3 linked regions of the Homo sapiens genome follow. The protein of the gene in region 1 purifies or fractionates together with the protein of each later gene. This does not show direct contact. Each region holds a gene or a part of one and is shown in the gene's direction. Other genes may lie near its edges.

Region 1 (7,020 bases):
GGTTCTGGTAGAACCAGGTGCTGGCACCACCTACCCTCCCCGGCTGTGCCCCTGGCCTGGCCAACGGGCTCAGGGAGGTGTGGGCCACGGGGTAGGCCGCAGTTTCCCAACTGCACCCCAGAGGTGTCGCGGGTGTGCCCTGACCTGAGCGTACCAGTCTCCTCGCTTCTGATGTCTGGCTGGTGCTGGGGCCGGGGCCGGGGCTGGAGTGACGAGAGGCAAAGCAGGAGGTTCTTGAGGGGCCCTCCAGGCCCCCACCCCCACCAGCCAAGCAGCGGACAGCACCGGCCCTGCTGTCTCTCCCCTCCCACCCTCCCCACTACCCTTGCCCACGTCCCCCCACCCCAGGCATTTCAACCCTCTCCCGCCAGCCTGGCCCTCGCTCTGACTGGCATTTGACCTCGGACAAGCGCCACGCCGTTTTTTTATTTTTATTTTTATTTATTTATTTATTTTTAAGACGGAGTCTCACTCTGTCACCAGGTTGGAGTGCAGTGGCGCGATCTCAGCTCACTGCAAGCTCTGCCTCCTGGGTTCACACCATTCTCCTGCCTCAGTCTCCTGAGTGGCCGGGACTACAGGCGCCCACCACCACGCCCGGCTAATTTTTGTATTTTTAGTAGAGATGGGGTTTCACCATGTTTGCCAGGATGGTCTCGATCTCTTGACCTCGTGATCCATCCATCTCAGCTTCCCAAAGTGCTGGGATTACAGGCATGAGCCACCACGCCCAGCCATGCCATTTCTTAAGATCCAGGTGCTCCCTCCCCGGGCGGAGAAGGACCTCCTGAGGGGGAGGCTGAGCCCTGGGCTGCCCTTGGGTGTGAGCGGTTCACACACCCACCCACCCTAGGGCAGAGCCAGCCCACCAGGGGCGAGGAGGGGCCCTGCTGGCCGAGAGGTGGAAGCCCTTCTCCTGCGCCCTTCCTGCTGCCAGACCCCACCCCAAGACTAAGGTTATGCTCCCCGGGGGTGACCGGTGTCCCTCTCTCCTTCCCGAGCCTGGACACTTGGCCTTTGTCTCCTCGGTTCCTTATCACGGCCTGTTCTGGTGCAGGCTGCCCTTGGCGCTGGAGAGGCCACTGGCCGACGGGCTCATCAGAGCTGCCGGTGACACCAGGGGCCAAAGGCGTCGCCTGGGGACAATGCTGCCCTCTGTCCTTCCTGGAGCCACTCTGGCCGTGCCTGGTGCCCTCCCCTGGGCCCGCCTGCCCCCTCCGCCTCGTTCCCTCTGTGACCTGGTTCCTGTTCCAGGCCTCACCTGGGCTGGCTGCTGGCCACAGGCTCTGTTCTGGCCCCTCTGCAGGACACCTCACCCTCCTTAGGCCCCTTCCAGGGTCCCACTGGGATGGACCCCCCCTCACCCCAAGCCAGTGAGGCCAAGATGGGACCTTCGCCCCAGAGCCGGGTGGGTGGGTGGGCTGGCTGCGCTGTGGGGCCCGGCCGTGGCACCTTGACCACTGTTTGTGGCAGGCATCAACCCAGATTCACTCCGAGGAACACACACTGGCGTCTGGGTGGGCGTGAGCGGCTCTGAGACCTCGGAGGCCCTGAGCCGAGACCCCGAGACACTCGTGGGCTACAGCATGGTGGGCTGCCAGCGAGCGATGATGGCCAACCGGCTCTCCTTCTTCTTCGACTTCAGAGGTGGGTCCTGCCCAGCCTCCTGCGGAGGTGGGTGGCCTTCAGGTCCCCACATGCTGAGCAGAAACCACGTGGCGTGGGCTCACTCCGTGCAGTGTGTGTCCAGCCTGGTGGCAGGAGGTGTGCTCAGGGGTCTCGTGTGCTCACAGCCCCACCTGAGCCGCAGCACCCTTCCTTGCAGGGCCCAGCATCGCACTGGACACAGCCTGCTCCTCCAGCCTGATGGCCCTGCAGAACGCCTACCAGGCCATCCACAGCGGGCAGTGCCCTGCCGCCATCGTGGGGGGCATCAATGTCCTGCTGAAGCCCAACACCTCCGTGCAGTTCTTGAGGCTGGGGATGCTCAGCCCCGAGGGCACCTGCAAGGCCTTCGACACAGCGGGTGAGTGTGCGGCTGCGCGGCCAGGGCAGGCGGGACAGTGGCACAGGACGGCCCCCCGCACAGTCCCCACGCTGAGCAGGATCCTGCCAGCTCCGGGGATCCCCCACCCAAGCACCCACCCCACACCCCAGAGCTCCTCCTGGTGGGGTGGGGGCCGGCGTGGGGCTGAGCCCCGGGCCTGAGGTGCTGCTCTACCCAGGGAATGGGTACTGCCGCTCGGAGGGTGTGGTGGCCGTCCTGCTGACCAAGAAGTCCCTGGCCCGGCGGGTGTACGCCACCATCCTGAACGCCGGCACCAATACAGATGGCTTCAAGGAGCAAGGTGGGCTCTGCCGGGGTTCCGGGGTGCTGGGGGGCAGGTGGGAGCCGGGGCTGGGGCTGCAGCACTGAGCCGAGCCCTCCGCAGGCGTGACCTTCCCCTCAGGGGATATCCAGGAGCAGCTCATCCGCTCGTTGTACCAGTCGGCCGGAGTGGCCCCTGAGTCATTTGAATACATCGAAGCCCACGGCACAGGCACCAAGGTGATGCCCCCCCCCCCCGCCCCACTCACCACCCCATGAGCCTAACCTACGCCCATGCCTGGAGAGGTGACCTGGCCAGAGCCCCTCACCCCCCATGTTTCCCACAGGTGGGCGACCCCCAGGAGCTGAATGGCATCACCCGAGCCCTGTGCGCCACCCGCCAGGAGCCGCTGCTCATCGGCTCCACCAAGTCCAACATGGGGCACCCGGAGCCAGCCTCGGGGCTGGCAGCCCTGGCCAAGGTAGGTGGGGCTGGGCTTGGGGGTCCCTCAGGCTCCTGCTCCCTGGGACTGGGTTGCGCCATGGCTGGGCACTGCTGCTTTCTCTTTGCCAAGTGGAGGCGGGGGCTTCCCCACCAGGAGCCTCTGTCCCCCGGGCTATGCTGCAGGTCTGAGCAGAGGCACTGAGGCTGACAGCAGGGAGAGCTCGTAGCCAGGCTCGCTGGGCCTTCCCTGGAGGCCTGATGCCCTGCAGAGCGTCTGCCGGACACGGAGCCGAGCTGGAGGAGCCGCTTGGGTGGGAAGAGCGAGGCAGGAGCAGGCCTGGGGGGGTCCACGGCACCATCAGGGTCTCCCGTGTCGCCCACCCGTCCCTACAGCTTCCTGACCCACTAGCAGAGGCCTGGGGACCTTTAGAGAGACCAGGCACAGGAGCCCCAACACCCATGATCACTCACGCCCTCTGCCCCCCAACTTCTGCAGCCTCTGAGATGCAACATCTGGGCCAAGGGGGCCTTAGTGTTCAGGCCACAGCCAGGCTTTGGTGGGTCCACATCAGGCTGGGAGGCAGCAAGGCCGGAAGGGGAGGTCTTGGACCAAGCTGAGGGCAGGGCCATGGCGGCTCAGTCCTCGGACCCCTGTGCCATGGCAGAATTAGGTTGGGGACAGGAAGTGCATCGGAGAGGGCCCTGGAACCCTGGCCCCACATGAGAGTCTCGGGGAGGTGCCTGCCCCCAGCTCAGGCAGTGGTAGAGGGAGTGGGGCGGCTGCCCATCCACCACGTACCCCCGCAGGTGCTGCTGTCCCTGGAGCACGGGCTCTGGGCCCCCAACCTGCACTTCCATAGCCCCAACCCTGAGATCCCAGCGCTGTTGGATGGGCGGCTGCAGGTGGTGGACCAGCCCCTGCCCGTCCGTGGCGGCAACGTGGGCATCAACTCCTTTGGCTTCGGGGGCTCCAACGTGCACATCATCCTGAGGCCCAACACGCAGCCGCCCCCCGCACCCGCCCCACATGCCACCCTGCCCCGTCTGCTGCGGGCCAGCGGACGCACCCCTGAGGCCGTGCAGAAGCTGCTGGAGCAGGGCCTCCGGCACAGCCAGGACCTGGCTTTCCTGAGCATGCTGAACGACATCGCGGCTGTCCCCGCCACCGCCATGCCCTTCCGTGGCTACGCTGTGCTGGGTGGTGAGCGCGGTGGCCCAGAGGTGCAGCAGGTGCCCGCTGGCGAGCGCCCGCTCTGGTTCATCTGCTCTGGTGAGCCCACACTCTGCCCCCAAGGTGGTCCCTTCCCTGGGGAAAGGCAGGCGAACTGGAGCTGGTGGTCCCCTGAGGTGCTCTCTGGGACGGGGATGGGCACACAGTGGCACGGGATGGGGCTGAGCCTCGTGACGTGCTCTCTGGGACAGGGATGGGCACACAGTGGCGCGGGATGGGGCTGAGCCTCATGCGCCTGGACCGCTTCCGAGATTCCATCCTACGCTCCGATGAGGCTGTGAAGCCATTCGGCCTGAAGGTGTCACAGCTGCTGCTGAGCACAGACGAGAGCACCTTTGATGACATCGTCCATTCGTTTGTGAGCCTGACTGCCATCCAGGTAGGGCCCAGCCTGCCAGCGTGTGAGCAACGCCAGCCCCAGGGCTCTGGCTTTCCCTGGAGCCCAGGAGCTGCAGTGTTGAGTCCGGGGCCCCTGACAGCCCCTTTGCTAGGCAGAGCCTTGTGCTGGGGGCAGGACGGGAGGGGAGGAGGGGTCTCAGTGGGGCTGTGTGGGGGCCATAGGGGCTTCTTTCCTATCAGGAGACCTGGGAGGGTCGATGGGGCGCGGGGGTGGAGATGGCCTAGTGGGGCCGGGGGCCGCCCCCAACAGCTGCACCTGCTGGAGGTTGCAACCTGAGTGTCCTGTTCCCACCCCAGATAGGCCTCATAGACCTGCTGAGCTGCATGGGGCTGAGGCCAGATGGCATCGTCGGCCACTCCCTGGGGGAGGTGGCCTGTGGCTACGCCGACGGCTGCCTGTCCCAGGAGGAGGCCGTCCTCGCTGCCTACTGGAGGGGACAGTGCATCAAAGAAGCCCATCTCCCGCCGGGCGCCATGGCAGCCGTGGGTAGGTCTCCCGGAGGGGCCCCCAGCACCTCCAAGAAAGGAGGCTGCCTTCTCGCTGTGGGGTCCTCACCTGCAGCCCTGGCCTGGCCCCCGTAGGATAGAGTGGCCCCCGCTGGCCCGGGGACACCCAGCTCGGACACAGCCGTGCGCGAGTCCCCTGCAGCTGCCCCACTGGCCCCACACCTGGCAGCCTTGGGCCTAGGCACGTGTCCATGGGCATCAGGCCTGCGTGGAGCCCCCGTGTGATGAGCACACAGCTGCAGCATAGCAAGAACCCAGGGGCTCTGGTGAAGCCAACACACGGGTCATCAGGGTTCCCTCAGACTGGTGCCCTCTGTTGGCACCCATCTCTGAGCCCCATGGGCCACATGTGGGCAGGACCTGGAAAGAACCTTGGCTGCAGAGGACTGAGGGGGCCACCATCTGGGGACTGGGCTCCCAGGAGCTGCCCCTGGAGTGGCAGCTCTGTAATGACACCTCCACCCACGGGTCAAACACAGCAGGGGGCGAACCTTTCTCATGAAGGCTCCAAGGCTGCCATTACCACACTTGTCATTACTGCCCCCAGCTGCAGGCAGTGTCTGGGTGGGTGGGTGGCTGGGAGCGGCTCGGTGTCCACGCTAAGCCTCTGAGGCTGGCTCTGCCATAGGCTTGTCCTGGGAGGAGTGTAAACAGCGCTGCCCCCCGGGCGTGGTGCCCGCCTGCCACAACTCCAAGGACACAGTCACCATCTCGGGACCTCAGGTGGGTGCTGCGGCCTGGGCGGGCTCCTCTGTCCCCTGCGCCTGCCATTGCAAGTCTGGCAGGGACACGCGGCCACGGTCTACGCCCCACCAAGCTCTGACGGGCCTGGGGCATGGGGCAGGTTTGTCCTCAGGTCCCTTGCCCATTCCCTCTCGGTTCCCTTGGGGTGAGGTGGGTGCGCCCTACCTCTCCGAGCCTGAGGTGGGTGCCCAGCCAGGATGCTTATCCAGGCTCCCACGATGTCCAGGCCCCGGTGTTTGAGTTCGTGGAGCAGCTGAGGAAGGAGGGTGTGTTTGCCAAGGAGGTGCGGACCGGCGGTATGGCCTTCCACTCCTACTTCATGGAGGCCATCGCACCCCCACTGCTGCAGGAGCTCAAGAAGGTGGACTAATACGGCCTGGGGGGTGCGGGGCGGGCCAGGGGACCCACAACCCAGCACTGACCTGGCCCCTCATGCAGGTGATCCGGGAGCCGAAGCCACGTTCAGCCCGCTGGCTCAGCACCTCTATCCCCGAGGCCCAGTGGCACAGCAGCCTGGCACGCACGTCCTCCGCCGAGTACAATGTCAACAACCTGGTGAGCCCTGTGCTGTTCCAGGAGGCCCTGTGGCACGTGCCTGAGCACGCGGTGGTGCTGGAGATCGCGCCCCACGCCCTGCTGCAGGTAGGCCCAGCCTGGGGGCAGCAGGCGCCGGGAGCCTGGGATGGGCGCCTCAGCTGAGCACCAAGAGAGCCCACCTGCCCTGCCGCCCCCAGGCTGTCCTGAAGCGTGGCCTGAAGCCGAGCTGCACCATCATCCCCCTGATGAAGAAGGATCACAGGGACAACCTGGAGTTCTTCCTGGCCGGCATCGGCAGGCTGCACCTCTCAGGGTGGGTCCCTTCCCAGCCCGGGTCTCGTCTCCCGGAGTCGGGGACGGCGTGGGGTGGGTGAGCGGGGCTGCGGGCCCCTCACTGACCCAGGCCGGTGGCAGCAGCCCTGGATGGTCCACCGCAGGCAGTGGGTGGGCTGAACCCAGAGCCCCTGGACCCCGGTGACGGGTGTGCTACCCATGCCTCCCTTCTCCGTAGCATCGACGCCAACCCCAATGCCTTGTTCCCACCTGTGGAGTTCCCAGCTCCCCGAGGAACTCCCCTCATCTCCCCACTCATCAAGTGGGACCACAGCCTGGCCTGGGACGTGCCGGCCGCCGAGGACTTCCCCAACGGTTCAGGTTCCCCCTCAGCCGCCATCTACAACATCGGTGAGCAGGGGCCCGGCGGGTGGGCAGACTCTTCCCTCCCCACAGACGCCCGCTCTGTGCTGAGGCCTGTGCCCTCCCGCAGACACCAGCTCCGAGTCTCCTGACCACTACCTGGTGGACCACACCCTCGACGGTCGCGTCCTCTTCCCCGCCACTGGCTACCTG
Region 2 (7,020 bases), on another chromosome or scaffold:
ATCCTGGCTAACACGATGAAACCCCGTCTCTACTAAAAAATACAAAAAAATTAGTTGGGCGTGGTGGTGGGCGCCTGTAGTCCCAGCTACTCAGGAGGCTGAGGCAGGTGAATGGCATGAACGCAGGAGGCAGAGCTTGCAGTGAGCTGAGATCGCGCCACTGCACTGCAGCCTGGGCAACAGAGTGAGACTCCATCTCAAAAAACAAACAAACAAACAAAAAAAACAAAAAGCAAGAAAAACAAATGCATTTGATATATAAACTCAACACAGCATGTACATTATAGGCTTGAGAGGCCTCTATCAGTTCCCTCCAAGATAGCCGCTACCCCTCAGTATGAGGTCTCTTCTTCAAGATTTTTCCCCATACAGACATCAGCGTATATTTTACAATTATTTTATTGAGCTGGGCAGAGTAGCTCACACCTGTCTGTAATCCCAGCACTTTGGGAGGCCAAGGCAGGGGGATCATTTGAGCCCAGGAAGTTGAAACTGCGGTGAGCTGTGATTGGGGTACTGCTCTCCAGGCTGAGCCAAAGTGCGAGACCCTGCCTCAAAAACAAAATAAATAAGCTTTTTGATATCACCAAATAATGTGCACTCATGATTAAAGAGAGAGAGAACAGAGCAGAACGTCTGTATTCAAAAGTAGAAATCGGCCAGGCACAGTGGCTCACACCTGTAATCCCAGCACTTTGGGAGGCTGAGGCAGGTGGATCACTTGAGGTTAGCAGTTCGAGACCACCCTGGCCAACATGGCAAAAGCCCATTTCTACTAAAATAAAATACAAAAATTAGCTGGGCGTGGTGGCAGGCACCTGTAGTCCCAGCTACTCAGGAGGCTGAGGCAGGAGAATCACTTGAACCTGGGAGGCGGAGGTTGCAGTGAGCCGAGATTGTGCCACTGCACTCCAGCCTGGGCAAGAGAGCAAGACTCCGTCTTAAAAAAAAAAAGTAGAAATGTATAATGTATTCCCTTCTCATCCCATTTGCCAGAGTTTTTGGTGTCTACCTTTTTTATTTTTTTATTTTTACTTTTTTTTTTATGAGATGGAGTCTTGCTTTGTTACCAGGCTGGAGTGCAGTGACACAATCTCGGCTCACTGCAACCTCCGCCTCCCGGGTTCAAGCAATTCTCCTGCCTCAGCCTCCTGAGTAGCTGGGACTACAGGCGCACACCACCAAGCCCAGCAGATTTTTGTATTTTTGGTAGAGACAGGGTTTCACCATGTTGGCCAGGATGGTCTAGATCTCTTGACCTCATGATCCACCCACCTCAGCCTCCCAAAGTGCTTGGATTACAGGCATGAGCCACTGCACCCGGCTTACTCAGAATTTTTGTTTTCTCTTTCTGTTTTTGGGGGGTTTTTTGAGACAGATTCTCACTCTGTCACCCAGGCTGGAATGCAGTGGCACAATCTCAGCTCACTGCAGCCTCTGCCTCCTGGGTTCAAGCGATTTTTGTGCCTCAGCCGGCCAAGTAGCTGGGATTACAGTCATGTGCCACCATGCCCGGCTAATTTTTGTATTTTTAGTAGAGATGGGGTTCTGCCATGTTGCCCAGGCTGGTCTCAAACTTCTGGCCTCAAGCAGTTCATCCGCCTCAGCCTCCCAAAGTGCTGAGATTACAGGTGTGAGCCGCCGCACCTGGCCTGTTTTCTCTTTTGAATCAAATGGGAGCCTGTTTTTTTCCTCCAAGTATTTTGGGGATCTCTCCACGTGGATCTGCATGGATCTGCCTCATCCAGCGCCTGGGTCACGCCCCCCTAGCATCGCTTACCGTCCCAGAGGATGGTAGGCCTTGGGCCCTGGGGAGGAGTTGTCTTGACACAAGAGTGTCTGCCCTGGCAGGGCCATCCCGAGCCTCCTCCTGGCCACTGAGGTCTGGGAAGGACGTCCTCCGTTGGTGAAGTCCCTTCCTGCTCCCCAAGGATGGAGATCCATTTCCTGGTTCATCTGGAGCTCTGATCAGTACCCTGAGGCCTTCCCACCTGACCCCAGCTTCCCCTGCAGGCACTCACCATGCCCAGAGCATTTGTCCTTCAAAAGCTCATGCCTGTCACCACCAGGAATGTCTGTCCTTGGTCTGCTCGTGTGGAAGCAATCCCACAAATCCAGAACAGGTGGTGTGTTCTCCCAGACCCTGGCCTGGACTCTGCCATGAGTGACCACCACGGGCCAGTAGCCCTGCGGGGAGCCCAGCCGGCCCCAGGGCTTGGGCGGCTCACCTGCCCCAGCCAAGACGGGCTGCTTCTCCAGGCATGAGTCAGCATGGAGCTGGGAGACACTGCCACCAACAACTCGGGCCCCTTTCCTCCATGCTAGAACTGCGGAGGCCCCGGAAAAATGCTTTTCAACTGCCAGTGAGCTTCCAGGGGAGGCCCGTGCCACTCACCCCAGACGATCCGGAGGCCTGCAGGCCACAGGGTTGGGGCCGAGCGGGAGCTTCCCCAGGGCTTCTCCTCCCGGAGGACTGGCCCATGGCTCATCTTGAGTTCTCGCTTCATTTTGACCAAGAGCCCATAAAGGGCAAACATTGAGAGTGAAGACAGACGCCTCATGATGTGCACATCCCTTATGATCACTGTCACCTCCCCATCACCGTCGCCTCCTATGTCTCGCTCTCACCTCCCACTCCTCCCTCAGATCGTTCTTGATGTTGGCTGTGGCTCTGGGATCCTGTCGTTTTTTGCCGCCCAAGCTGGAGCACGGAAAATCTACGCGGTGGAGGCCAGCACCATGGCCCAGCACGCTGAGGTCAGTGGCCCGCTGGTGCCCACCCAGCCTCGTCCTCGCCCATGAGTGCCATGCCGGCCCCAGCCTAGAGAAGCTTGGGAACCCCCAGGGGCCTGGGGACATTACTTCTGTGCTTTGGTCTCTTTATTGTCCCCAAGACAGTCATTTCAGGGAGGGGCTTCAGGGCCTGAGATGATTTTCTCTCATGGCCGGTAGTCAGGGCCACATGTCATTTCCCTGTTTTCTTTTTTTTTTTTTTGCACTGAAACCTTCATTCACAAAGTTCAAAACATAAAAGCTAAAAAAGAGCAGACAGCGTGCTCTCCTTCCCCACCCCAGCTCCCACCCCCAGCCCCATCATGAGAGAGGAGCTACGGCCACAAAGTCTGAGCAGAGCTATTCCGTGAGCGTCCTCTCGCACCAGTGGAGGCTGCACCCTCCATTCCCTGCTCTGCCTCTCCCATGGATCTGGGGTCGCCGGGGTCGTGGAGGGGCCATCTTTGTTCTGTCTTGCCGCCGCAGAGCACCCCTGTGCCCAGCCGTGCCGCTGTTGCTTTAGCTGCATTGTGTCCGCAGCGACACTCAGACTCCTTCCAGGTCTTCACGTGGCCAACGCTGCTGTCCTGAGCCCCTCTCCCACATGCGGTTGTGTCTGTAGGACACACCCTAGCCCTGGAATCGCTGGGTTGGGGGTGCATCCAGCTTTAGCTTTGGTGGCTGTTGTGATGTCTGCTCGTCCCCCTCTTTGCAGCCACCAGCAGTTGTCGACGCAGGGTGGGGGACCTAGGAGGCCGCAGCAGGGGACGGCCCTGAGGCAGGGCCGGGGTCACAGTGAACTCTCTTTTTTTTTGGGGGGGGTCTCACTCTGTTGCTCAGGCTTGAGTGCAGTGGTGCGATCCTGGCTCATTGCAACCTCCACCTCCCGGGTTCAAGTGATTCTCCTGTCTCAGGCTCCTGAATAGCTGGGATCCACCACTGCAACTGGCTAATTTTTGTATTTTTAGGCCAGGCATGGTGGCTCACACCTGTAATCCCAGCACTTTGGGAGGCTTAGGTGGGCGGATCACCTGAGGTCAAGAGTTCGAGACCAGCCTGACCAACGTGGCAAAACCCCATTAGCCAGGCGTGGTGGTGGGTGCCTGTAGTCCCAGCTACTCGGGAGGCTGAGGTGGGAGAATCGCTAGAACCCGGGAGGCAGAGGTTGCAGTGAGCCGAGATGGCGCCACTACCACCTCCAGCCTGGGCAACAGAGTGAGAATCTGTCTCAAAGAAAAAAAAAATAGTTTTTTTTTTTTGGTATTTTTAGTAGAGACAGGGTTTCTCCATGTTGGTCAGGCTAGTCTCCCAACTTATGAGGTCAAGCAGTCCGCCTGCCTCGGCCTCCCAAAGTGCTGGGATTACAGGCATGAGGCACCGTGCCCGGCCCACAGTGAGCTCTTAACAGGCTATGGCCAATCGCAGCCATGGTTGGGGCGCCAGCGAAGCAGGCAGAGGGGCACCCAATGCCCATGTGTGGATGGAGGCTGTCCCTTGAGAGCAGGTCTAGGGAGGGCCCCATGGCAGGAAGACGCAGGGAAGCCCACATGGCCCTGCCCGCCTGCAGGTCTTGGTGAAGAGTAACAACCTGACGGACCGCATCGTGGTCATCCCGGGCAAGGTGGAGGAGGTGTCACTCCCCGAGCAGGTGGACATCATCATCTCGGAGCCCATGGGCTACATGCTCTTCAACGAGCGCATGCTGGAGAGCTACCTCCACGCCAAGAAGTACCTGAAGCCCAGCGGTGAGCACTGGGGGGTACACAGGCCAGGCCCCTCGGTGGAGGCCCTGGCTGCCGCTGAGCCAGGCCATCAGTGCTTCAGCTCCCTGCTTACTGTCGGTGGCCCGGGGTGTAGGGAAGCCTGGGCTTTTCCCCCGCTCCCACCCCAACCCCACTCCAGCCAGCTGTGGCTTTTGGAGCCCTGGGCCCCAAACACGGCCAGACACCCAGCTGCCCACTCGCCCAGACAGGGTACACAGGATCTCCTGGCACCTCTGCCGTCCCATGTCCTGCTCCTGCGGGACAGCCTCTGGCTGGGAGTGGGGATTGGGACAGGTTCTGTGGTCAGCAGTTCCCCAACAAGCCCTGCTCTCCTCACAGTCCAGGAGGTGGGGTGGGCGAGCATGTGTGCAAATGCAGGGGTGTGGGTGCGAGTGTACGTGTGTGAGGAGGTGAGGTAGCTGTCTGGCAAGCCCATCTGTCACTTCCCATCCGTGCCTCTGGGTATGGCCTCTGGTCACTGGGTGACTGTTTCTTTTTTTGAGACAGAGTTTCACTCTTGTTGCCAAGGCTGGAGTGCAGTGGTGCGATCTCGGCTCACTGCAACCTGCACCTCCCCAGTTCAAGCAATTTTTGTGCTTCAGCCTCCTGAGTAGCTGGGATTACAGGTGTGCACCACCACGCCCAGCTAAGTTTTGTATTTTTAGTAGAGATGGGGTTTCACCGTGTTGGTCAGGCTGGTCACGAACTCCTGACCTCAGGTGATCTACCCGCCTCAGCCTCCCAAAGTGTTGGGATTATAGGCATGAGCCACTGTGCCTGGCCTGGGTGACTGTTTCTATTTGCCCATCTGTCTTGGGGTCTGTGCAGCCCTGACGCCTGAGGCATGTGCCTGTGGCTCTTCTCATGCTAGGTATGTGAGCGTCTGAGCATTTCTGTACAGGCAAGCAGCTGTGTGTGCGTGTGGCAGGGTACAGGTCCCCAGCCAGGGTAGCAGCCATGGGATGGAGCGTGGGCAGCAGCAGGCTGGTGGGGCTTGTGCAGGCAGGGGCAGGGGGGAAGCTTCCACTCTCATCTCTGGCCCGCCCTGGATCCAGGCCCTAGGGTCCTGGCTGGCTGTGCTCCTGGAGGTGGGAGGTGGCGTCCCACAGCTGTGTCTCATGTCTTGGGTGTGAGTATGGGAAGCAAGGCTGCTCCAGGGGCTGTGGGCCCCACTCTCCTCCCCTTCTGCCCTGATGGTGGGGATGGGGGTGGGGACAGCCCCAGCAGAGAGGGCCCCTCCCGATGGGACATGAAGCCAGATGGCAGTCAGGCTCTGTGGGCAGCTGCATGTGCCCCCGACGTCCCAGCAGCCAGCTTGCAGGGAGGGGGGAGGCCAGGCCTGTGCAAGGAGGACTCCTGTCCAGCTCAGGAAGCTCTTCCAGGGGTTAAAGGCAGCCCTCCCCTCTCCCAGTCACATGTCTTCTGGTCAGCAGGAGCCAGAGGTTCCTTCCAGGCTGGGTCACTTCCCATGGTGCCCCCAGGTCCCCCAGGGCAGAAGCCGCAGCATGTGCATCTCCCTCCCCGTTCCAGCAGCTGCAGCCCTGCAGCTCTCGCCTCGGGTACAGCCTGGTGGCGTAAGGAGGAGGCAGAGTCCCACTGATACCTCAGGATCTCCTCCCCCAGCTTGCAAGGCTGGGGGGCCCACATCTGGAGGCCAGGTGCTCCTTGGGGCAGGCGGGGCTGCGGGGCCCTGATCCTCCCTGCCACTGGCCCTGACTCATGCGTCTACCCTTGAGTCACAGAGGGAGGCCCTGCCCTTCCCTCAGTCTGTGTGCCCAGACCAGGCAGGCCAAGTGGCCCATCCTGCCGGCTGGGTGCCTGTGCCAGAACCTAGGCAGTCCCTGTGGTGTGGATTTGGCTTCCCCCACCTGGCTCTTGGCCTCAACTGAGGTCCCCAGCGGCGTTGGGGTAGCCCGGGGCCCACCACCCTCCCTCTGTCCAGAGCAACTTTGCTATGCTTTCCCGGCTGCACACATGCACAGACGGCAGGGCCTGAGAGGCAGCGCCTGGCCACATCCCGGGCACTGCCTGCTTCCCCGTGAGTCTTTGGCAGGTCCCTCACACCTGCCAGGTCTAGTAATAGGACATAAAGATGAGCCACCAGCCTCCCAGTCTCAGGTGGAATTCGTGAGCTGGTGCAGGTCAGGTACCCGTGGTGGTGATGAAACACTGATCAGAATAGGCGCTCGGTGCCACTGTCACAGGAGTGCAGGAACGAATGGATGACAGGCTGGGAGCACCCAGGGTTGGGGGTCTTGGGGTCCTTTGGAAGCTCTGCCAGGCAGTGTGGGATGTGTCACCTGACGCCAGCACCCCTCCCTGCCCCACTCCCAGGAAACATGTTTCCTACCATTGGTGACGTCCACCTTGCACCCTTCACGGATGAACAGCTCTACATGGAGCAGTTCACCAAGGCCAACTTCTGGTGAGTGTGCCCTGGGTGTCCCGCCTGGGCCCCACAGCCTGCCTTCTCAGGGACAGCCCC
Region 3 (7,760 bases), about 61 Mb from region 1:
TGGCTCACGCCTGTAATCCCAGCACTTTGGGAGGCCAAGGCGGGCGGATCACGAGGTCAGGAGATCGAGACCATCCTGGCTAACAAGGTGAAACCCCATCTCTACTAAATATACAAAAATTAGCCGAGCATGGTGGCGGGCGCCTGTAGTCCCAGCTACTCGGGAGGCTGAGGCAGGAGAATGGTGTGAACCCAGGAGGCAGAGCTTGCAGTGAGCCTAGATTGCGCCACTGCACTCCAGCCTGGGTGACAGAGCGAGACTCCATCTCAAAAAAACAAAACAAAACAAAAAAAAAACCCTGTCTTCCATACCTAGGTAAGGCATCAAAAAACATTTCCAGATCTCCTCCACCATACCTGTCTGGGGAGGATTACGGTAAAGAGGTGTCTTGGAGTATTACGATATTACCTAGACTTTCCTTTATCGCTGCAGTTTTATATTCCTATAACATCCCGCTAATGTTGCTGGCAATATTGCTACTAAGCACACTACACTGTGGGATTCTTTTTTTTTTTTAAGACACCGTCTCACTGTATCACCAAGGCTGGAGTGCAGTGGCGCGATCTTGGCTCACTGCAACCTCCACCTCCCAGATTTAAGTGATCCTCCTGCCTCAGCCTCCCAAGTAGCTACAATGACAGGCATGCACCACCACGCCTGGCTAATTTTTGTATTTTTAGTAGAAATGGGGTTTCACCATGTTGGCCATGCTGGTCTTGAACTCCTGACCTTCAGTGATCCACCCACCTTGGCCTCCCAAGGTGCTGGGATTACAGGCATAGGCCACCTGGCTTTCTTTTTTGAGACAGAGTCTTGCTCTGTCGCCCAGGTTGGAGTGCAGTGGTGCAATCTTGGCTCACTGCAACCTCCACCTCCCGGGTTCAAGCGATTTTCTGAGTAGCTGGGACTACAATGGTGCCATCACATCCAGCTAATTTTTTGTATTTTTAGTAGAGACGGGGTTTCGCCATGTTAGCCAGGATAGTCTTGATCTCCTGACCTTGTGATCCGCCCGCCTCGGCCTCCCAAAGTGCTGGGATTACAGGCGTGAGCCACCATGCCCGGCCTTTTTTTTTTTAAATTAAAAAAAAAAAAATTCTCCTCTCCCATCCTCCTGGGATTCTTGAAGCAAGAAATTGTTGTAATCATCTCAATTGCCAGCAACTATCAGATCAATAACTGCTAATGTTTCTTGAGCCCTTATTAACAACAGGCACTTGCTAAGAGTTTTGTATGGATTATCTCATTTATTCCTTGCCATACACTTCAACGTAAGCACAGAGCTGATATTCTCCCAATTTTAACAGATAAGTGAACAGGCTGAGAAATTTAGGCAATCCGCCCAAGGTTACACAGATAGTAGGTGGCAGAGCCTGACTGTAATTTAGCAATCTGACTTGATTCTTGGATACATGAATAAATGCATATACTGAACATGTGGGCCACTGTTTTCTACATGTTGTAGAACAGTGTGTTCCCTCGTACCATGACACTTTGTCATTTCTTTTTAAGTTTTAGTGATTTTTAAATACAAAGGAATATATTAATTTTCATTGTAAGAAAACATTCAAACATTACAGATTAAGTCACATCTACCTTTTCCTTTCCAGAAGTTACTGTTATTGATGGGTGTGTTTCTTTCTTCCAGGCCTTCCATTATTTTCCTACAAACGTCAGCATATTTTCTGTAATTTTCTGCAATTTGTTGTATTCATTTATGTTTTATGACTTTTTGTACTAGTACTTACAGATCTAGTTTTTTTTTTCTCTGTTGCCCAGGCTGGAATCACTGGCATGATCAGGGCTCATTGCAGCCTCGACCTCCTATGCTCAAACAATCCTCCCGCCTCAGCCTGCTGGGTAGCTGGGACTATAGGCGTGCACCACCACAACTGGCTTTTTTTTTTTTTTTTTAATTTCTTTGTAGAGATAGGGTTTCATCACATTGCCCAAGCTGGACTTCATTCTTTTTAATAGCTGTGTACTATTCCCTAGAATGGCTAGTCCATCATTTATTCAATGATTCTCCTATTAATCGTCATTAACGTTTCCATTTGTTTCCCATTAGAAAAAAAGCACTTCATCCATACATCTTTTGGGGACTGCTTCTCAAGAGTATATTCTGTAGTTTAAATTTTTTAAAATCACTAAGGTTGTTCTGATTATGGAACATTTAAATCATTATAATTGATTCAAGTGGACAGCACAGATATTCTTCTGTGCTTAGATGATCGTATTGATAAAAAAAAAGATAATAAATATTAGGGCCTGAATGCTAAGTGCACATTTGTGAAGCCAAATCATATTTGTATAAGCCCAACAATATGAGAAAACTCCTTACATCAATATTTATAGAGATGGATCACATATTTTTGTAATTCCTGACTTACTAGTTAGGATTTTAGTTTTTTGTAAGCTGACATTCTTTCCTCTAACATAAACATGGTTTTCCTTAACAAGTGTTTTATTCTAGAAATGGTCTCGTTAGATTTTTCTGTAAATGTGTTTCGGGTTAATTAATTCGGCAGGGTTTTGTTTTGTTTAGAGATGGGGTCTTGCTTTGTTGCCCAGGCTAGAGTGTAGTGGCACAATCACAGCTCACTGCAGCCTTGACCTCCTGGGCTCTGCGATCCTCTTGCCGTAGCCTCTGGAGTAGCTGGGACTACTATAGGGCTTCACCGGGTAATTCCGAGTACCTGCATGTAGCCAATACAGTTCTGGGAACTTGCGGCTGTAGTAGTACATAAAACACACAATATCATTACCCTCTTGGAGGCCAGGCGCAGTGGCTCACGCCTATAAGCCCAGCACTGTGGGAGGCCGAGGCTGGTGGACCACTTGCTGTCAGAAGTTCAAAACCAGCCTGACGAAACCCCATTTCTAGTAAAAGTTCCAGATCAACATGGTGAAAGCCCCTCTCTACTAAAAATACAAAAATTAGCGGCGTGGTGGCAGGCGCCTGTAATATCAGCTACTGGGGAGGCTGAGGCAGGAGAATCGCTTGAATCTGGGAGGCGGAGGTTTCAGTGAGCCGAAATTGCACCACTGTACTCCAGCCTTGGGCAACAGAGCGAGACTCTGTCTCAAAAATAAAAAATAAAAAAAAAAGATTACCCTCTCGTAATTTTTCATGCTATTAAGGGAAGAGACAATAAAAAAAATAAGTAAATATTCATTACGCCAGATAGTGATAAATTCTTTGGAGAAAAACAAAGCAGGGTAAGGGAATGGAGAATTTTGGGGGGCTTGCAATTTTCATTAGGGTGGCAATTTTCCTTTTCACGGAAAAGGAGGTGTGTGATAAAGCTGGAAGGAGGTGAGCGAGCATCAGACATGGAATATAAGGATGCAGAGGGTGAGGGGGTAGGGAAAGCATTTTAGGGAGAGGGTACTGCAAGCACGAAGGCCATGAGGCAAAAACCTGTGCTCGGCAATTTGTCTTGGCCACAAAAGCTTTATCCCAGTCGTCAGTCCATTAAACCCTGTAGCTTTAAGTGTTGTGAGATCACAATCTTTATTTTTTAACTTGTGATGGTTCTGGACGGCAATTGCTGTTTCCTGCAATCTGTGGATGAATGAATGAGCAAAGCAGTTAGCAGCGGGATGAGTACAGGGGAGCAGCTCCACACCTGACACCTTATCCAAGTTCCCCCAGACCCTTGGCGCCCTGGTTCCCCCAGAACTTCGTTTGCATTCGTCTTTAAATGTCTTCTCAGTTTGCCTTGGGTCAGTTATTTGTATACCGATTAGACCTGTGCCGCCCACTGCGGTAGCAGCTAGTAGGAATTGGATGTGCTTTAAGTGTAAATACCAGATTTCCAAGACTTGCTGCAAAAACTGTAAAACATTCCACTAACGATTTTGCAATACTGCCTACATGCTGAAATAATTTGACTTTATTGGGTTGAGATATATTACTGTAACTTTCTTTTTTCATTAGAAAAATGTAGCCACTAGCAAATGTGAAGTGTCAGGCGTGTGGCGCGCAGATGCCTCTTTAAACTGGATGGCGCCGGGTTGGCCCTCACTATCAGCGGGCTCCCGACAGGAGGCGCCCCAGCTTGCGGCCGGGGGCAGCGCCTACCAGGCAGTTGGCAGGCAGTTCCAGCCCCGGGCCACGGCACTGCAGGGCCCGAGCCAGGTTACGGCAACCGGGGGCCCTGCAAACAGCTCCCGATTAGGGGGTGCTTTTGGGTGGGAAAGCGCAGGCCCTGGATGGAGGCCCGACCTGCGGCGCTCCAGCTCATCGCCCCGCCTCTTTGCGGCAGAGCTCAGGCCGGCGCAAACCGGTTCAGTGCTAGGACTGACGTCTCGCGCCGCCCAACCGCAGCACGCCCCCGCCTCCCCAGTCCTCTGGAAGAGACAGGGAACGTCTAGCCGCCAGGGTCCCGGGAGGCGGCTCTGTACCAGACGGACTATACTGAGAGCCTATGACAATAGCCGAAGGTGCCGGGGGGGGGGGGGGGGTGGCCTACTACCAATAAAGGAAGGGGAGGGGCGGGCCCTCGTTAGCTTCCCCCCCCTACCACGCTTCCTCGGGCGCGGGTCTACCCAGAGCCTAACGGGCGCGCGAGTGTGGGGGAAGGGCCTGGCGCGGGCTGGAGACTGCGCAGTGCGGTGCCGGCCGGGAGGGGGGGGGGGGGTGACGTAATCTCCGTCCGCGGCCGCGGCGCCCCGCCCCGCGACACCCTCCGCGAACCGCGAGAGCGCAGCGCAGGCGGTCCGCAGCAGCCGCAGCTCGGGGGCGGTGCCTGCCTTGCAGCCTCCCCTCGGCGATCGCGCAGCCCCATCTTTGTCCGGCCTCCGCGCTTTGTTCTCGGCGCCCGGGCCTTGGCCAGCCTGGCCAGCCGCCGAGCAGCCCCCACGCCGCGCTGGCGTCGTCCTCGCCTCCCTCGCCGCCGCCCCCCGCGCGCGGCCGGGCCTTGCCCCCCATGGTGTCCCGGCCAGAGCCCGAGGGCGAGGCCATGGACGCCGAGCTGGCGGTAGCGCCGCCGGGCTGCTCGCACCTGGGCAGCTTCAAGGTGGACAACTGGAAGCAGAACCTGCGGGCCATCTACCAGTGCTTCGTGTGGAGCGGCACGGCTGAGGCCCGCAAGCGCAAGGTGCGCCCGGCAGCCCACCGCGCGGCGGGCTCGGGGCCTTCTGCCGCTCCTGAGGCCGGCCGGCGGAGGGGCCCTTTTCCTGCCCTCTTCCCTTCCCCCGTTGCCTTTCCCTGTCCTTCCTCTTCCTCTCTCCTTCTGCCCTCTCTTCTCTTTACCCCTTCCCCCTCCTTTCCTTCCCCCCTCAACTCTCTCCCTTCCCTTATCTCCTCATCTTCCTATCCTTCCCCTCTCCCCCCTTCCCCCATTCTTCCTTTCCCTCCCCCTCCTCTCTGTCCCCTCCCCCTCCTCTCTGTCCCCTCCCCCTCCTTTCTCTCCGCCCTCCCCCTCCCTTATCCTTCTTGGCCCGGGAGGGGCGAGTGCTTCCGGGCCGGGGGTGGTGTTCTCCTGCCCTGCTGCCTGGGGAGCCTGGGACTTCGGTGGGCGGTCCCGGGCGTTCCTGCGCGAGGTCCTTGCGGGGAACTCTCCTGGTTCTGGAGGGTTCGGGGCTGGATGCGGGTGCAGAGAAAGAAATATTTCAAAAAAATGAGTAAAGGATGGGGGGCTGTCGAGTTCTGGGCGTTGGTCTGCAGCGGTCACCCGCCGCCAGGAGCGACCTTGGACGGGAGCTGGGGCAGGAGGCGGGCTGGGGGGCGCGGGGCCGGAGCTTCGCGGCTGCCTCGGGGCCCGCGAGGAGCTGGAGGTGGAGGGCGGCAGGGGCTGGGGCCGGGGCGAGCCTGTGGGTGCGGAGCCACAGCCCGGGTTTGCGTTGCGGCTGAGGAGTAGACTTGGAAGCGCGCCGTGGGCTGTGGGAGGCCTTAACCAGGAGTGAGTCCCCTCGGGGAGCCCAGTCTTGCGTCCCGCAGTTAGGCTTGGTAAGGGTTTGGAAATCAAAACGTAACGTGATTCTTCTATGTGAATAAAGTTTATTTTTACAGTTTCACGCGCTTTTGTAGATTACAATCCGAGATTGGGAGTTGTGAGGGCAGTTTCCACCTTGAGTGGCATTTTTTTATTTATGGGAATACCAACAGGCTCGCTGAGATTGTAGGGTATGTTAAGCAGTAATTCAAAAAAAAAATTATTTTTTTGAGACGAAGTCTCGCTTTGTACCCCAGGCTGGAGTGCAGTGGCGCGATTTCGGCTCACTACAATCTCCGCCTCCCGGGTTCAGCCGATTCTCCTGCCTCAGCCTCCTGAGTAGCTGGGATTACAGGCTCCTGCTACCACGCCCGGCTAATTTTTGTATTTTTAGTAGAGACGGGGTTTCACCATGTTGGCCAGGCTGGTCTGGAACTCCTGATCTCAGGTGATCCACCCGCCTCTGCCTCCCAAAGTGTTGGGATTACAGGCATGAGCCACCGTGCCCGGCCTCAAAATTTTTTTTATCTGTAATGGTATCAGGTAGCGTTATGTCTGGATGAACTAAAATCAGACATAAAACGTTTCAGGATCGGAGTTAGAGTCTTGCTAGTAGAATTGTGTGTCTTTAAGAAAAGATGGCCTGGCTTGGCGCGGTGGCTGACGCCTGTAATCCCAGCACGTGGGGAGGCCGAGGGGGGCAGATCACGAGGTCAGGAGTTCGAGACCAGCCTGGCCAACATGGTGAAACCTCATCTCTACTAAAAATACGAAAAGTAGCCGGGTGTGATGGCGGGCGCCTGTAATCCCAGCTACTCCAGAGGTTGAGGCAGGAGAATCACTTCAACCCGGGAGGCGGAGGTTGCAGTGAGCAGTGATCGCGCCACTGTACTCCAGACTGGGTGACAGAGCAAGACCCCCTCCGGAAAAAAAAAAAAAAGGGTGGCCTGGTTGAAGCCAGTCTTCTACAGGGAATGTGCTGTTGCTACTCTGGGTCAGTAGTGTCCGGATTGGGACGTGACGCGCCCAAGATTTGTTACTACTTTGGATGAAGTGGGGACCGCCCCACTCTTCCTCTCCCTCCTTTTCTTTTTCCGTTCCCTCCCTCCCTCTCCCTTTCTTCCCCCCTCTGGTATTTTTTAACCAAATAGAAGGAGTCAAGTTTAAACCATCATTAACTAACTTTGCCTAATTTCCTAAAGTTAAGAATTACTTTTTTTTTTTGCGCTACTTATGGCTCTGATTAATCTTTTAATTTCAGATGTCAGTTGCTTAGTTTCAAAACTGTTGAGCCACATGTATGTTATTCACCAATTAGAAGTTGAACTGTAGTCGGGTAGTGAAAAATATTTCTTTCAAAATTTAGGTGGGGGCTGCTGCAGTGCCAGTTGGCAGTGTGCCAGCAAGGAGCCCTTAAGCCCTCCATGCTTTTTCCTCTGACTGGGGGGACTTATTTACCTGTATCACTTCATGTGCGGTGTCCTGCATTTCTAGCACTCTCTAGTGGCCCAGTTAAGGAAGAGTTGGTTTGGGAAATAGTTTAACAAACCTGATGATTAACAGTTGGACAATCTGCATAGGATTTCCATCAGATCTGTAAGCTTAGGACATTTTGTTTTTTAAATTTTATTTTATTAAAAATTATTTTTTGTAGAGACAGAGTCTTGCTCTGTTACCCAGGATGGAGTGCAATGGTCTGGTCAGTGATCACTGCAGCCTCAGATTCCTGGACTCCAGCCTCTCCTGAGTAGCTGGGACTACGGGCGTGTGTCACCACGACCGGCTAATATTTGTAGAGACAGTGTCTCACTATATTGCACA

What was found. Proteins that work in one complex are often made in the same cells at the same time.
Region 2: the proteins of FASN (region 1) and CARM1 fractionate together in Homo sapiens (co-fractionation; 2 studies listed by BioGRID). This does not show direct contact.
Region 3: the proteins of FASN (region 1) and USP22 purify together in Homo sapiens (affinity purification with mass spectrometry; 3 studies listed by BioGRID and IntAct, with this or other methods). This does not show direct contact.

The regions. Positions count from the first base shown.
Region 1 is NC_000017.11:82,088,225-82,095,244, reverse strand, and holds part of FASN (fatty acid synthase), read left to right. Parts: intron 1-1,473; coding exon 1,474-1,647; intron 1,648-1,825; coding exon 1,826-2,026; intron 2,027-2,225; coding exon 2,226-2,348; intron 2,349-2,432; coding exon 2,433-2,548; intron 2,549-2,655; coding exon 2,656-2,790; intron 2,791-3,560; coding exon 3,561-4,023; intron 4,024-4,175; coding exon 4,176-4,363; intron 4,364-4,680; coding exon 4,681-4,870; intron 4,871-5,104; exon of another isoform or gene 5,105-5,285; intron 5,286-5,518; coding exon 5,519-5,613; intron 5,614-5,860; coding exon 5,861-5,995; intron 5,996-6,072; coding exon 6,073-6,276; intron 6,277-6,368; coding exon 6,369-6,484; intron 6,485-6,682; coding exon 6,683-6,855; intron 6,856-6,937; coding exon 6,938-7,020. UniProt on the Homo sapiens protein: Fatty acid synthetase is a multifunctional enzyme that catalyzes the de novo biosynthesis of long-chain saturated fatty acids starting from acetyl-CoA and malonyl-CoA in the presence of NADPH.
Region 2 is NC_000019.10:10,909,538-10,916,557, forward strand, and holds part of CARM1 (histone-arginine methyltransferase CARM1), read left to right. Parts: intron 1-2,646; coding exon 2,647-2,757; intron 2,758-4,339; coding exon 4,340-4,517; intron 4,518-6,869; coding exon 6,870-6,960; intron 6,961-7,020. UniProt on the Homo sapiens protein: Methylates (mono- and asymmetric dimethylation) the guanidino nitrogens of arginyl residues in several proteins involved in DNA packaging, transcription regulation, pre-mRNA splicing, and mRNA stability.
Region 3 is NC_000017.11:21,040,007-21,047,766, reverse strand, and holds the start of USP22 (ubiquitin carboxyl-terminal hydrolase 22), read left to right. Parts: upstream 1-4,755; 5' UTR 4,756-4,931; coding exon 4,932-5,102; intron 5,103-7,760. UniProt on the Homo sapiens protein: Deubiquitinase that plays a role in several cellular processes including transcriptional regulation, cell cycle progression or innate immunity.